Homo sapiens: one gene and its partners. The protein of the gene in region 1 interacts with the protein of each later gene in a pairwise test. Each region holds a gene or a part of one and is shown in the gene's direction. Other genes may lie near its edges.

Evidence for each region. Proteins that work in one complex are often made in the same cells at the same time.
Region 2: the proteins of CCN3 (region 1) and MACO1 interact in binary tests that used the Homo sapiens proteins (3 or more experiments, as listed by UniProt).
Region 3: the proteins of CCN3 (region 1) and TNIP3 interact in binary tests that used the Homo sapiens proteins (3 or more experiments, as listed by UniProt).

Annotation. Positions count from the first base shown.
Region 1 is NC_000008.11:119,419,418-119,424,950, forward strand, and holds the end of CCN3 (CCN family member 3 precursor), read left to right. Parts: intron 1-3,418; coding exon 3,419-3,715; 3' UTR 3,716-5,017; downstream 5,018-5,533. UniProt on the Homo sapiens protein: Immediate-early protein playing a role in various cellular processes including proliferation, adhesion, migration, differentiation and survival. Acts by binding to integrins or membrane receptors such as NOTCH1.
Region 2 is NC_000001.11:25,496,853-25,500,709, forward strand, and holds the end of MACO1 (macoilin), read left to right. Parts: intron 1-1,411; coding exon 1,412-1,614; 3' UTR 1,615-3,357; downstream 3,358-3,857. UniProt on the Homo sapiens protein: Plays a role in the regulation of neuronal activity.
Region 3 is NC_000004.12:121,140,322-121,147,365, reverse strand, and holds part of TNIP3 (TNFAIP3-interacting protein 3), read left to right. Parts: intron 1-191; coding exon 192-317; intron 318-4,589; coding exon 4,590-4,640; intron 4,641-5,451; coding exon 5,452-5,550; intron 5,551-7,044. UniProt on the Homo sapiens protein: Binds to zinc finger protein TNFAIP3 and inhibits NF-kappa-B activation induced by tumor necrosis factor, Toll-like receptor 4 (TLR4), interleukin-1 and 12-O-tetradecanoylphorbol-13-acetate.

The DNA of each region.
Region 1 (5,533 bases):
TCACTGTGTCACTCTGTGACGGAGAGAGCAGCTATAGCGGGGAGTTAACCCCAGAGAAAAGGCAGTGGGGTTCTTGAAGCCAGCCTATCTTCTTTTTTCTCTTTAACATATTGAAATACTCTAAGCAACTCACAGTACACCCTCAGGTAAAGAGGGAGAGGGACCGGAAAACTATAATGCTTTTCCCAATAGAGAATGGTCTAGCAAATCCCATTCCATTCCTGGAGAAAACTGGCTACAGTTGTCAAGCACAGCTGATTCTAAAGAGGTCACTTCTGACCTCAGTTCTCTTTATTCGTCAGGTTCTGTATGTATGGGTAGAGGCCATGTGGGTCTTACCTCTCAGTCCTCAGCTTTCTACCTGGCAGATATTGTGTGCGTGATAAACAACTGTTGATAAATAAGCGAGTGACTGTCTGGGAATTATTGTTGGTATTTTTAAAAACCTAGTGGAAATAATACATTTGCCAGCATAAAGCAATATGGGCCAAATAAAACAGCACATATCTTTTTATTTTTTTTTTGTTGGAATTACATCAACTCAGTATGTTAACACTGAATGTGAGACGTGCAGTTCAGAAGCTCTGATTGGTTGCTGATGACATCACAGGCCTTGTTACCAGAGCCCTATATCAGAAAAATGCAATACCCAATTTGAACCATTATATGGATCCTTATACAAACCTAAGACTAAAATAAAACAGCCCTTAGCAATTCAAGATTTACATATCTTGACACTGAAGCAATATCATCTAATGCGTAAGAGGACAACTGTGGAGCCAGACAGCTTGGCTTCAAATTCTGTCTTTCCACATGAACCAGCTATGTAATCTTGGGCAATTTTCTTAACCTCTCAGCCTCAATTCCTTCTCCCACATAATGGGGCGGCTGAAAGTACCTACCTTAACTTGTCACGATGATTACATAGAATGAATTTGCAAAATGCTGGGTATAGATTAAGTACTCTGTTAACAGTAGCCACCATTACTTATGATTTCTATTTACTGGTAAAATAAGAGTCCCTAGTGGTTGCATTAGTTATATGGCTGCTTAGCTATATAATTTTTGGAAGTCCATCCTAACTTTACTTTTCTTCCACCAGTTTAGAAAGAACACCTAGAAACACCTTATCCCTAAAATTATATCCTAGGAGATGCACTTCCCCACGCTCAGAGGAATTCAAACATATATCTAACATAGTCATATAGGTTCACCCACATAAGCAGTCTCACATACAAACACATACACACACATAGGAATGTTGTTATCCTGTACCATTTTGTGGGTGTTGACAAGAATACACGCTAAATATTAAATTGAAAAAGTAAGAAGAAGTCCTTAAATATTTTCAATAGCACAGCAACTTCTTTATTAAACAAGATGTTTCCATTTAATGCCTCTAAGATGTGGCTTTTTCTATTGTGTCATTTTGCAAAATTTGTATTTTTTCTTGTAACTTGAATCTTCTTTAATATTTGGATATGTTATTTTAAAGATGGTTATTTATAGTATACATATTTTATAAAAATTGTACTAGTATAACAATCATTACTTCCTTGTCTCCAAGAGATTCTTAAATCTAAGACAGTGGTTCTTTTTTTTTTTTTTTTTTTTTTTTTGAGACGGAGTCTTGCTCTGTCACCCAAGCTGGAGTGCAGTGGCACAATCTTGGCTCACCGCAAGCTCCGCCTCCCGGGTTCACGCTATTCTCCTGCCTCAGCCTCCTCAGTAGCTGGGATTACAGACGCCCTCCACCATTTTTTTGTATTTTTTAGTAGAGACGGGGTTTCACCATGTTAGCCAGGATGATCTTGATCTCCTGACCTTGTGATCTGCCCGCCTCGGCCTCCCAAAGTGCTGGGATTACCGGCCTGAGCCACCGCGCCCGGCCGACAGTGGTTCTTAAAGGGTGGTCCCCAAACCAGCAGCATCATCTAAGAAGTTGTTAAAATGTAAATTTGTGGTGTGGGTCCCACATCGGATGTACTGAATCCAAAACTCAGGGTGTGAGGTCTGACAGCTTGTTTTAAGAAATCCTCTAGATGATTTTGATGTGCACTGAAGTTTGAGAGCCACTGATTTAAGATAATTCCAAGTCTAATCACCCCACAAGCTGTGGGTCATGCCTATGAAGGTGAACAGTGGATAACTGTAGGAAATTAGTAGATTAAGAAATATAAGTAAGAAATAAAATATAGCCAATTCTTTGCTGAATTATCAACATTGGGCCTCTTCATTTATCATTACTAATACAATCTTGAAAACATTCTCCACTTTATTTGCCTCCATGCAAATTCCATGTCTTGGAATTTCCTGGGTTCATCACGTAATAGAAAGAATGGGCTTTGTACAGACAAATTCAAATATTAGATGTTTTCTGATCCCTTTAGGTCTTTGAGACTCAGTTTCTTCATCTGTAAAACTTGGGCAATTGTTCTTTCTATGAATGATTATTTCTTGTATGAATGAACACTGTTAATAAGGTTGAGTTAATGTTTGAAGAGTATTTGAAACATAAAATAATGCCAGATTTATAAACATTCTTTTTATAACATGTTGTATTAGTCCATTTTCAAACTGCTATGAAGAACTACCCAAGACTGAGTAATTTATAAAGAAAAGATGTGTAATTGCCTTACAGTTACACATGGCTGGGGAAACTTCAGGAAACTTACAATCATGGCAGTAGGTGAAGGGGAAACAAAACACATCTTACATGGCAGCAGGACAGAGAGAGACAGAGAGAGAGAGAGAAAGAGAGAGAGAAAGGCAGAAAGAGAGAGAGAGAGACAGTGAGAGGGGAAGTGCCACACTTTTAAACCATCAGATCTTGTGAGAACTCACTATCACGAGAACAGCAAGGGAAAAATCTGCCCCCATGATCTAATTACCTCCCACCAGGCCCCTCCTCTGACACGTGGTGATTACAATATGAGAAGAGATTTGGGTATGAACACAGAGAACCAAACTGTATCACGTGTAAAAATCCATTTGGCTAAAAATGACACCAAAGCATGTTACAGTGTCTTAAAAGATAGGTTTTGTTATGCTTTCACCTGCATGCTCATCTCCTCAATGTCAAAAGACCATTATGTACAATTAGGCAAGGTGTTTACATTCCAGGAAGAAAGGAAAATGAATACAGGAACAATAAAGAATTGTACCTACTCAAAGGGCAAAGAATTTCCCAGATTCTCTTGGCCAGAACTTTGCCACAAGGTTATCCCAAGTCCCACATAGTCTGTGGAAGCAAATACTTTTAGCTGACTACATTGCTCAAGCAAAATTAATGTTCTGATAGCAAAGAAGAAAGACCAATAGATATTGGGTGGGCAACTAGCAGGTAATTCCATACTCTAAAATTGTCCCTCAGGGGAATGGTAGCCATTCAATACATCACTTCTTTTTTCTTTCTTAGAAAGGAAAAAAGTGTCTCCGCACCAAGAAGTCACTCAAAGCCATCCACCTGCAGTTCAAGAACTGCACCAGCCTGCACACCTACAAGCCCAGGTTCTGTGGGGTCTGCAGTGATGGCCGCTGCTGCACTCCCCACAATACCAAAACCATCCAGGCAGAGTTTCAGTGCTCCCCAGGGCAAATAGTCAAGAAGCCAGTGATGGTCATTGGGACCTGCACCTGTCACACCAACTGTCCTAAGAACAATGAGGCCTTCCTCCAGGAGCTGGAGCTGAAGACTACCAGAGGGAAAATGTAACCTGTCACTCAAGAAGCACACCTACAGAGCACCTGTAGCTGCTGCGCCACCCACCATCAAAGGAATATAAGAAAAGTAATGAAGAATCACGATTTCATCCTTGAATCCTATGTATTTTCCTAATGTGATCATATGAGGACCTTTATATCTGTCTTTTATTTAACAAAAAATGTAATTAACTGTAAACTTGGAATCAAGGTAAGCTCAGGATATGGCTTAGGAATGACTTACTTTCCTGTGGTTTTATTACAAATGCAAATTTCTATAAATTTAAGAAAACAAGTATATAATTTACTTTGTAGACTGTTTCACATTGCACTCATCATATTTTGTTGTGCACTAGTGCAATTCCAAGAAAATATCACTGTAATGAGTCAGTGAAGTCTAGAATCATACTTAACATTTCATTGTACAAGTATTACAACCATATATTGAGGTTCATTGGGAAGATTCTCTATTGGCTCCCTTTTTGGGTAAACCAGCTCTGAACTTCCAAGCTCCAAATCCAAGGAAACATGCAGCTCTTCAACATGACATCCAGAGATGACTATTACTTTTCTGTTTAGTTTTACACTAGGAAACGTGTTGTATCTACAGTAATGAAATGTTTACTAAGTGGACTGGTGTCATAAACTTTCTCCATTTAAGACACATTGACTCCTTTCCAATAGAAAGAAACTAAACAGAAAACTCCCAATACAAAGATGACTGGTCCCTCATAGCCCTCAGACATTTATATATTGGAAGCTGCTGAGGCCCCCAAGTTTTTTAATTAAGCAGAAACAGCATATTAGCAGGGATTCTCTCATCTAACTGATGAGTAAACTGAGGCCCAAAGCACTTGCTTACATCCTCTGATAGCTGTTTCAAATGTGCATTTTGTGGAATTTTGAGAAAAATAGAGCAAAATCAACATGACTGGTGGTGAGAGACCACACATTTTATGAGAGTTTGGAATTATTGTAGACATGCCCAAAACTTATCCTTGGGCCATAATTATGAAAACTCATGATCAAGATATATGTGTATACATACATGTATCTGGTTTGTCAGGCTACAAGGTAGGCTGCAAAATTAAATCTAGACATTCTTTTAATGCCACCACACGTGTTCCGCTTCTCTCTTTTAAAGTATTTATAAAAATATAAATTGTACATTTTGTAAAATATTATGTTTGATTTCTCTACTTGTCATATCACTAAATAAACACGATTTTATTGCTGCGTGACTCTGTATTACTTTGGTGCATAAAAGTTGAACATTGTTGTTTACTGAAAATAAAATTAAAATTTATGAATTAAATGAGACATCAATCAATAGCATCTATTGAAAGCAAAATGAGTATTTCTGGATGAGCTTACAACTTCTTATCAGAAGGGAAACAAAAGACAACTCAGTATTCCTGAGTTAGATGTTCCTCACCATCACAGCCTCAACTAGCCTCCACACTACTTACCCAGACCCTCATCTCAAGCCCTGATCTTTTTTTTTCTGGACAGCCCGCTAGACACCTCTGTATATTGAAATTTAAACTTGTTATCTGACCAAACAAAATTCAGCTCTGTGGCTTCCTCATCTAATCAAAGGGCATCCCATCCTCCCAATTGCACGGCTTAAATGGCCAGCACTTTCTTGATCAGTATTATCTTGCCAAGTACCCAGAAAAGCATATTTCCATTGATCATGGGGAATTGCGTGACAAACTGGGCTGCACACTGGGCAGAGTCACAGTTAATAGAAGTTTTGTGTTTGGAAGCTTCTTGCTGATGCAGTGTGGCTCTCAAGTTCTATAATTTGTAAGGAAAAATCTTTTCAAAA
Region 2 (3,857 bases), on another chromosome or scaffold:
TTGAATCCTGGCTCTGTCACTAGCTGTATACCTTGAGCAAGTCACTCAACTTCTCTATGCCTCAGTTTCCTCATCTATAAAATGGATAATAATAATTCCCCCATCATGGGGTTGTCGTAAGAAAGAAATGAGTTAGTATACATAAGCATTTAGCATGCCTGGCATATATGAAGCCCTATGTGTTAGTTTTTGTCATTATAAGTGACAGAAAGGGAAGTGGAGGGTGTGTTAAGAATCTAGGAGTTAGACCGGGCGCGGTGGCTCACACCTGTAATCCCAGCACTTTGGGAGGCCGAGTTGGGCAGATCACCTGAGGTTGGGAGTTCGAGACCAGCCTGACCAACATGGAGAAACCCCGTCTCTACTAAAAATACAAAATTAGCCAGGCGTGGTGGCACATGCTTGTAATCCCAGCTACTCAGGAGGCTGAGGCGGGAGAATCGCTTGAACCCGGGAGGCAGAGGTTGCAGTGAGCCGAGATCTCGCCACTGCACTTCAGCCTGGGCAACAAGAGCAAAACTCCATCTCAAAAAAAAAAAAAAAGAATTTAGGAGTTGTAGGAAGCTAATTTAGACAGGAGGCTCAGGGAAAGTTTTGCTGAGGAAGTAGAAACAGAATCCTCAAGATTTAGCTAGCTTCACAAAGAAAGCAGGAGATACACAGGACAGGAAGTGGCCCGAGGTAGGCAGGAGCTGACTGGATCAAGAAACTGAAGCGTAGTGAGGGCAAGTGTGCTGGAAGGCTAAATAGGGTGATGTTGCTAAAGCAAGGGCAAGTGATGTGGGTCACACTAGCGTTCCTCCCAGTACAGCAGCCACAGAGCTTCCTCTGTTTTGTCAGAGAACCTGGTGGCAGAAGCGTATTACTGTGACTGAGTCTGAGGCCTTGGTTATGCTGTATTCCTTGGTCTGACACTCAGAGATAGTCTGTCCTCTCAAAAAAATTCCAGCTCAAGAGGTGGAGCCAGAGTTCAAAATCGCCAGCCCTCTTACGCTGTCATAGCTGACTGCCATGTTCAAAACGTGGTTCCTGGAAACTGACTTCTTTACATCAACCACACCTATATGAACAGAATCCCTTCTTAGCTCTAAGCCAAGAATCAGTAAACTGTGGCCCATGGGCCAAATCTGGCCTGCCACCTATGCCTGTACTGCCTGCCGATGAAGAATGGTTTTTACATTTTTCCATGGCTGGGAAGAAAAGATGACAAAGATAGTAAGTACACTGTATATGGCCCACGACACCTAAAATATTTACTGTGTCCCATTACAGGACAAGTTTGCCTGCTCTTATAAATCACTGAACCTGGAGCTGTTCACACTGAACCGAATCTACTTAGGGATTGGCCCCTGGGGACATTGTGTTGGGTGAGGCCTCCCTTTTCACTAATGGTGGGTCTTTGATCTTACAGGACAAATCCTTCAGAAAGATCAGGAAATCAAGGACCTAAAACAGAAGATAGCCGAAGTCATGGCCGTCATGCCCAGCATAACATACAGTGCCGCCACCAGCCCCCTGAGCCCTGTTTCCCCCCACTACTCTTCCAAATTTGTGGAGACCAGCCCCTCTGGACTTGACCCCAATGCCTCTGTTTACCAGCCCCTGAAGAAATGAAGGCCAGCTGTGTGTTGTGCCCAAAAATTTGGTTACCGGAAGGCATTGCAAAGGAGCGTCTCTGGCAGTCAAGATAAAAAAACAGTTTCTATTGTATTTTGTGGAACTGTATCTGTTGTCATTTTTAAAAAGGGGGGAAAAGATAACATCCAAGTCTGATTAGAACTGCCCATCAGTTTTTCTTGTAAATTTTTAGAAGACCTCACAGAACTTTACAGTTTATTTTTCTCGGCCAACACATTAAAACCATTCTTGGATTTCAAGTAGCCAACTTTGCCTTTTATGTATTCTTACATAGTTTCCTCTTGAAGAAAAAAAAAGCAGAGTTTTTGTTTTTCAACCCTTTATGTTTGTTTTGTTTTATTCTTAAATAAGCAAGCAAAACCTGCACATTGGATTCACGTGAGATGATAATGAAAACTTTTAGTTTAAGAGTGAAGGGTTAAGTAACCTAACAGAGCTTTGATGTTATAGCTGCATTAAAGAAGGTGATTGTCAATATTACAGAAAACAAAAATGGATTGCCCCTCCAAGGACCAAACAGATTCAAGGAGCATCATTTAAGCTAAGAAGAGACCTAAGTGATGAAACTAGCTGTAAGAATGTAACAGGGGTTGTGTTTGAAATATTTATATTCCCATCGGTGTGTTTAGTCCTAGAAAATTGCTAGCAGCAGTCTTCTTCACAGTGCCTTGGGAAAAGACATTTCAAGAGGAAACTTGATAATTTTAAACTCTTTTCCCCCTTTACCGTCATCTATCCTCTATCTGTATCAAGCTCACTGCGGATCCTGCTGTAAAACTGGTGGGTAGCTGGGCTGTCCGTTACCACCACAGCTACATCTTCTGTTTCTTTGAATAGAAAGCACCACAGTGTTTTGCACTTGCCTCCAGTAAAGTGCCCTGGGAAGGGAGCTGGGCAGTGTTTGTGGACGAGAGACTGTAACGATGGCTAATAAAAGCTGCGGGTCTAGGTTTTTTTTTTTTTGTTTTGTTTTTTCATTTCATTTAACTGTGCTTTCTCCACTTTTCATCATTTTGTGTTTGATGATTTAAAAGAAGCTTGACTATTCCTCAGCTCTTGTGCCAAGGAGGGTTTTTTTTTTTTAAGACTCTTAAACTCAAAACTCTGCACAAAGATTTCAGTTTCAAATGTGTATTATACATGGGTAGAAAAGTGTTTGCACAGGCAACTTTTGGAAGTGTTTAAGAATCAGGGTGGGGGTGGCGGGAGGGACCGGGTGGGGGCAATGCAAAATTGTATTTGGAAACTAGGAAAAATTAAGAAACCAAATAAATTGGTTTTGCTTCCTTGCCATGGATTCTGGAAGGACATAGTTCTTCTAAAATTTCCTGTTAATTGGCATGTACGTCTCATTTAAAGCAAATTAAGTAGGACAAGCAAGTCAGTAAAATAGAAGTATTAAAAAGAATCATCCTTTAAATCACAGATCTTATTTTGAGATTAAAAAAAATACTTCTAGCTTTAGCCAGGTGTGCATGTTGCTGCCATTTTGCATTTTTGAATCATCTTGTGTAATTGTCACCATGAAAGTGTTACTCAGAATTGTCATAGATTTTCTCTTCTTTGTGCAAAAACATGGAAAATTGTCACTGACTTTGTTTTGAGGTTTCCCCCATTTTGCTGCCTTTTGGGACACTTCGTTAAATACTGGTCTTGGCTGCATTCTTTTTTTTTTTTCCTGTGGGGTTCAAAAGAATAAACATTTTCTTACAGATAAAACTAGTTTTCTGCCTTTTTAACTTTCAGGAGAGCACAGCAAGGTAGATTGTTCTGAGTGGGGCTTAGCCGGTTGCTATCTTGTTCTCATCTCGGCCTGCATCAGGTGGGGGTCCCCCCACACAGCCGATCCCTGGGTAGGGGGCAGACCCAGGATTTGGGGGAGACCCATCAGGATCTCAAGTTGGTTTGGTTTCTGTGCATAAGACATGTCCATTCTCATTTGTTTTCTCCCTTCTCTGGCATCTGATTAGAGCCAAGGCTGACTTGTTTTCTGGTACAACCCTCCTTTCCTAAGAAAGCAAGTTAGGGGTGGAGTTGGGGGGTAGTTGGTGAGAAAATCTTGAGAGCAAATTTCCTTCATCAATGCCTTGCCTTCTATTTTCTAGAATCTTGCTTGGCCACTTAGTGACCAATACTCTATTGGGTTTCCTATCTGCTATAGATCCTGAACTAACCTACACTTTTATCATCCTCCCTTGTTTTTAGAGGCTTTGTCTGTT
Region 3 (7,044 bases), on another chromosome or scaffold:
GTTCAAGCAGTATTCATACATCAAAGCCCTTGTGTTAGGGATGGATGACTTGCTCCAAAACAGTGACACTGAACACTAGTTGGGAGGGTTCTTTACAATAATGGAGTAGGCAGCAGTCATTTAAAATAAAGTCATTTAAATGGCTTAAGTGAAAAGGAAGCTTACAGTAACAGCAAGCTAATATTTCTTAGGTGCAAATATACGAAGAAGACTTCAAAAAGGAACGATCGGATCGAGAGAGACTTAATCAAGAGAAAGAGGAGCTACAGCAAATTAATGAAACTTCCCAATCCCAGTTGAACAGGCTGAATTCCCAGGTACAAGTCAAAACAAAATAATCTTTGCCAGCATGTATGTATATTTTTTTCATTTAAAAAAATTCAAGACGTTTGGACTTCTGTTAATTGACATTGAATTTTTTTTTAAAGGTCAGCACCTGGGATGAAGTCATTCTTAAACAATCTTGTAAAGAGATGAAAATGACTGGAAATTTCTTTTAACTTAAGTATATTAAGGAATTGCCCAAGAAATTGCATTCCAAAGTTTTTTTTAATAAAATACAGTCCTTTTGATCTTTTTCTCATAATATTTATCTTGGTAGAATGAGAGTTGAACTACCTAGTACTCAAATAAAGTGAAGTGGTTTTTAAAATTCTTGTCATTTTCTTTGAAGGGCTATGTTGGAATGCTCCTGTCTGCCAAAAACATACGTATTTCTAAATGCCATTTATATGTGAGACTGAGGATTTTGTTCAGTGGTTCCCAGATGTAATGTAACTGGAGTACTTTGAAGGAAGCCAGATAATGGTCACCAGTTTATTAAAATAGAATATATTAAATGTAAGCATACTAAAATTAAGTGTAATTGAACATATTAAAGTAGACTCAGGAAGTTGCCACGATGGGTAAATAGTGATGTTAATGAAGGAAAATGTAGCTAACATAATTTTGCCTTAAAAAATAAAACAAACTGCACCATTTTTATTTGTAAAATATTGCAATACATTTAAATAAATAGAACATTGTTATGAGAATGCTGTGGCAGCACTTAGCTTCAAGATTCTTCGTCATAAAAAAATTTAAAACAGTCATCATTTTCTTCCAAATACAAAGTGGATTGTGAATTAAATTTAATTTTATCTCTGATTTTTTTAAGATTAACTTGAAATTCTTAATTTTACATGGAAAAAATTGTTTTGCAGAACCATTTTCTCTGTAAGAAATTAGAAAAAATAAAATAGTAGTAAAAAATCAAATAATTTTATGAAAGTAATTCAGGCAACCTAATAAATAATTCATACAATAATAGGTAAGACAATGTTCTGATTACTCTTGGTAAAAAAAAAGAGTATATATTGTATATTCTCTCTCTCTCTTTTTTTTTTTATGAGATGGTGTTTTGCTCTTGTTGCCCAGGCTGGAGTGCAATGGCATGATCTCGGCTCACCGCAACCTCCACCTCCCAGGTTCAAGCTAGTCTCCTGCCTCAGCCTCCCAAGTAGCTAATTTTTTTGTATTTTTATTCTTTTAATGTGTTTCTTACATGCCCAACTACTCTAATTTCTTTTAAGTTGTCTCTGCACAAACTGTTTTACTTGCTGCCAGTAAAACAGTTTTAGAACAAAAAATATTTGTTTTTTAAAGCAATTTTAAAATTTGCTGCCAGTAAAACAGCAAGTAAAACAACTTTAATTTTAAAACAATTTTTAATAATTTATTTTTATATGATAAATTATATATCAATATATAATTATATTTAATTAAATAATTTTATTTATTCTACTATATTAAGATTGGTGATAGACTGGCAATGTCCTTGCCATTACAGAACTTTTAGTCTTGTCAGGAATGTATATCTATCTACTTAACGTTGTATACTATAATCCACAAGTCCTTAACTGTGTCACCTGTAAAGTTGATTGGTATCAACAAAATAAATGTATTTTCTAAATGCAGTATGGTATAATTCTGCCTTGAACCTAAAGGACAATCTTAATGATATCTAAAGTGATAGATTAAAGCTATGAAATTTTTTCTTTAAAATAATGAAAGCTCAATCATTTTTTTAAAGTCTCATTTACTCAATAGGAGAATGATAGAATTCACAGAGATGTAATAGATGGTTTGATGATCTGTGTTAAATGTGTTAACAGCAGATTAAATGCTATGATATTTTAAAAAGAACTGACATTACCTTAGTTGAATAACATATTATTTGTTGTCCAAGTGGACTTTTAGAGGAATATTTAGGTCAAATCATTCTGGCATTCTGAGTTGCTTTCTTACCAGAATGTATTCATTCTATCACTGAGGATGCGTTAAGTCAGTGAAAATAAGTAATGTGGTAAAGTGAAAGATGCTTAGGGTACTTAGAAATATGAGAATTTAGGGGGAAAAGACTTGGTGTTCCTGCCTGCTCTAATATTCCATTGGTGGTAACCTTGAACAAGTTATTTAACTTTTCTATGCTTCCTTTTCTTCATCTGTACAATGACAAAGTTGAACTAGATGATCTCTAAAATGCTTCTTATTACTCTAAAATCTCTCTCTAAAAAATAAGTTCCTTAACCTCTTTTAGTATACCTGCCTGTAAAATATAGATAATGAAACCTACCTTGTGACTTCCTAAGTTGTTCTCAATATTAAGTGAAAAAAGCAAAAACAGGCCGGGTGCGGTGACTCATGCCTGTAATCCCAGCACTTTGGGAGGCCAAGGCGGGCAGATCACCTGAGATCAGGAGTTTGAGACCAGCCTGGCCAAAATGGCGAAACCCTGTCTCTACTAAAAGCACAAAAATTAGCTGGGCATGGTGGCACGCGCCTGTAATCACAGCTATTTTGGAGGCTGAGGCAGGAGAATCACTTGAACCCAGGAGGCAGAGGTTGCAGTGAGCCGAGATTGGGCCACTGCATTCCAGTCTGGGCAACAGAGTGGGATTCTGTCTCAAAAAGAAAAGAAAAAAACAAAAAAACGCTTTAGAAAACATTTAGCTCAAGTCAAGTCATGGCTCAGAGGTATTTTATAAATTATTTTAGTCTATTAGAAGAGGGGGCATGTTTAATAGTTTCATTTAGTTTATAATTAGCATGGTACTTTCAGTTCTTTGTAATCTAATTTTGATGCTTTCTTTTTGCAAGGCATTCTGCTATATGCTGTGAGAAAACGAAAACTGGTTCTTGCTAGTAAATAACTCACAATATAGTAAAAGAGACATGTACAGTCTATCCTCATCATCACAAATTCTGCATATGTGAATTTCCCTACTGACTAAAATGCATTTGTCATCCCCAAATCAATACTTGTGGTGCTTTGTGATACATCCTTACATATGAGCAGAGCAGCAAAGTTGTTTCCTGACATATACACATTCCTAGTGTTCTTTTTGTGATCTATTTAGTGCCATGTTTCCTGCATTTTTGTGCTATTTGTTGGTGATTTCATGGTTTAGAATGGCCCACACGTATATGCTGTCATGCTCTCTAGTATTCCTAAGCATGAAGGATGTGATGTGCCTTATAGAGAAAAAGTGTGTTAGAGAAGCTTCATTAAGACATGTTATAGTACTCTTGACCATGACTTCAGAGTTAATCAACAATACATATTAAATAAGTTGTCTTTAATCAGAAACACACATGAAACAAAGTTATGTATTGATCCATTGACACAAATGTTGTGACAAGAGGCTAGCAGAAACTTAACCCAACATTTCTCCTAGGAGCAGTGGTTCAATATTCACTAATTCAGTGTCCGTGGTGACTTTATGGAATATGACCACCACAAGCAGCAAGAATTGCCTGTAAATAGTACACATTGGTCTAAAAAATCACACAGTAAATATACAACACTACATAAGAGGACAGAATAATTCTGATAAGTGGGACTTGGAAAGGTATCATTCAGAAGGGGATATTTGACCATCCCTTATGGGAATGTGGGACATGGAGTGTAGGAATGACAATGATGTGAATGAACAGTCAAGGAAAAGCCAGCTTTCTCTAAATGTGTCTTAAGTTAAGGGAACCCAGGGTAGGTGATTCATCTAGATGAGGCTGGGCCTTAAGTAGTGAGAAGCTGTGGGATATAGCAGTGTGACTTTGAACAAGTTACTCAGAATCTTATGTCTTAGTGTTCTCATCTATAAAATTGAGATAGTATTAAGTATCACATAGAGGGATTGGGAGAATTCAGTGAGTTATTGCATGTAAAAAATTTAGATAAGTTTCTGACATGGATTAAGTGCATATATAACTTCTAACGTTTATTGTGGAAGCCTTTGAATGTCAGGTTGACAATTCCAATGTCATTCAGTAAGCAATGGAAATTGTTTCTATATCTGTATCTAAATAGATCTACCTAAAACAGAATTGTAATGGCCTCAAAAAACTGGAATAGCAATTTAAAACTATCACATTTTTCAAACTGCAACTGGAAATTTTAAGAATCAATGCATGTCTGCAAAAACCAACTTGTGGCTATTTTTGTTGGTATTACTGCTGTCAATGCCTGACACTTGAGTAGGTCAAGAGTGGCTTGGGAATTAATGATTTTAACTTGTCTTGATTAACAAATGCCTTTGTTTTGTCTTTAGATAAAAGCTTGTCAGATGGAGAAAGAAAAACTAGAAAAGCAATTAAAACAGGTATGTTGATCTAATTTTCACGCATACATTTATTCCCATGTACAGCATTTCTCATTGTCCCAATTAAAGACATGTTCAAGCTCTGCTACAGGTGACCTACAACAACCCATGCTTTTCATTACTGACTACACCATCAACGGATAGACAGTGCTTAGGCACCACCAAGGCCTTTCAACCCTAACACTCATAGAAAGCATATGCTTTATAGAGCATGTTACCAGTAGCACAAGTCTTAGTGCTCCTTAGACCCACAAGCACCTGGAAATAGATTTCATTGGTATTTCATGCAGTTGCTGACACAATTAACAGTAGAAAACTAAATCAAATACTGCCTCTTTTGAAAAAATAACATGCCTTCTTGAGCACTGAAGCATTCTATCCCATGGGTTCTCTAATAGCCTTAAATAATGAATATTATTTGTCCTAATTCCTAATTTCCTTTCTGGATTTTAGTTTTCCCTGGCTACAATTTAAGAAAACCTATTTTATGACTCAATGAATAGATTTTCTTCATTGAGGGCCCTCAATAAAGATAACTCAAAAACATAAAGTTAACTCTATATACTTTTCAAGTGTGTCTAATTTCTTCAAAATGGGGAAATGATTATAGTTTCACCTTAGGTAAAACTTGACCTGTGAGCCTCGTTTGTATTGGTCCTGAGTCTATTGACATGTTTACTATTTTGAGTTATAATTATGCCAGATTAAGTGGAACCTTAAGATTGAAACCAAACCTTTTGTATAAAGCAATGTCACTGCAACTCCTCAGTCTCTCCCACTGGTAGTGACCCCACAGTTTTGTTCTCCTCAGATGTATTGCCCACCCTGTAACTGCGGCTTGGTTTTCCACCTGCAAGATCCATGGGTACCAACAGGCCCTGGAGCTGTGCAGAAGCAACGGGAGCACCCAGTAAGTAAGAGTGCATTTGAAAAAGTGCTTAGTATACTGTTTTGGTAGAAATTATGTGCATCTCTGGAATTTCAGCACATTATATTATCTACAGCAAGAGCCTCTGTTTTCTCTCAGCCTCTAACTTGCAAAGTTGGAGTGGTCAATGTACACTAGAATTATCTTTGGGACACTGAATCCATAGGACACATAGATACGAATAAATTAACTGAAAGGTATTAAATTGGGAATAATTCCTTGAACAACATATAACATTTTCAATTGGCATACTTCATTCTACCCAAAGGACATTTTCTGTATAAAGTGTATTTATGTATAAAGGAAAGTGGATATGGCAAAACAAGAAAAATGAGATGCTTTTGTTCGGTTGTAAATTTATATTGAACTACTATGGATATTGCTACATATGTGCAAAATAGATTTTGACATTTTCCAATTGAAAGGATTTTCTTAAAGGATCCAAGAAAAAGTGACCCACTTAAGTTGTTCTCCATGGCTGTGTCTTCCCAGACAAAATGAAATGCAGAGTTGAGCAATTATTTGTGAGGGGAATTGATTTGGACAGTCAACCTGAATTAGTGAGGCCCAAAGCACCCTTTTTTTCCTTCTCAATAGCAGTATTCCACCTACCCTCCTCTACTTTTTATTTTGCCTACATAGATAGAAATTTATCCAGGAAAAAAATATGCATTTTCTGCATTTTGGATTTACCCAGACAAATCCCGCTACCCTTTAGGTTTGATTAATTGTGTTTCTCATGATGAAAAAATCTAAGATTTTTAACTGGGATTTTCCTACCAGAATGCTTACAGAGAACATGATTCTCTTGGCTTCCTGAAAGTTCTCATACTTTTGTTCGAGTGTGACTCAAAACCCTTTTCCCAAGGGAGGAGATAATGACTCTTTGGGTGGCTGAAGGAATGTGAGGATTTAATGAGCATCTCTTATTTGACCCTGGTATGACACAGCACACCGCTAAGAATTGAGTCTTTTCATGTTATTGCGGGTTGCTAGTTCTGTCTGCTCTCCCTCCCCCTTTTCCTTTTTTTTCTTTACCTGTTTGCTTACTTTTCAGTCTTTACCAATAACATTAAATTTTTTTTTCAAGAATGTAGAAGTCAACTCAGATTGTGAGAAACATAAAGAGAAATTTACTGTAGGAGTGAATTAACCTATAGGAGTTGGCTTCTACAGGTTGGGGGATTGGAGAAATATTCTTATGAAAGGTTAACTATAAAACCAATCAGTCATTCACATTTACCTAGGAGTACAAATTATTGTTTCAGTCAAATATTTCTTTATGGAAAGAAGGAAGGAATTCACCTACTATAGCTCATCAAACAGTCCATGTCAATTAAAAAAGGCAAGGCAGTCCAGGTCACATAAAATTGTCACCAAATAAAGGCCTATATTTGAAAAAGGACTCCAAGCCATGTAGAATGGCCTACATTTTCTTTCTTTTTTTCTTTTTTCTTTTTTTTTGAGAAGGCATCT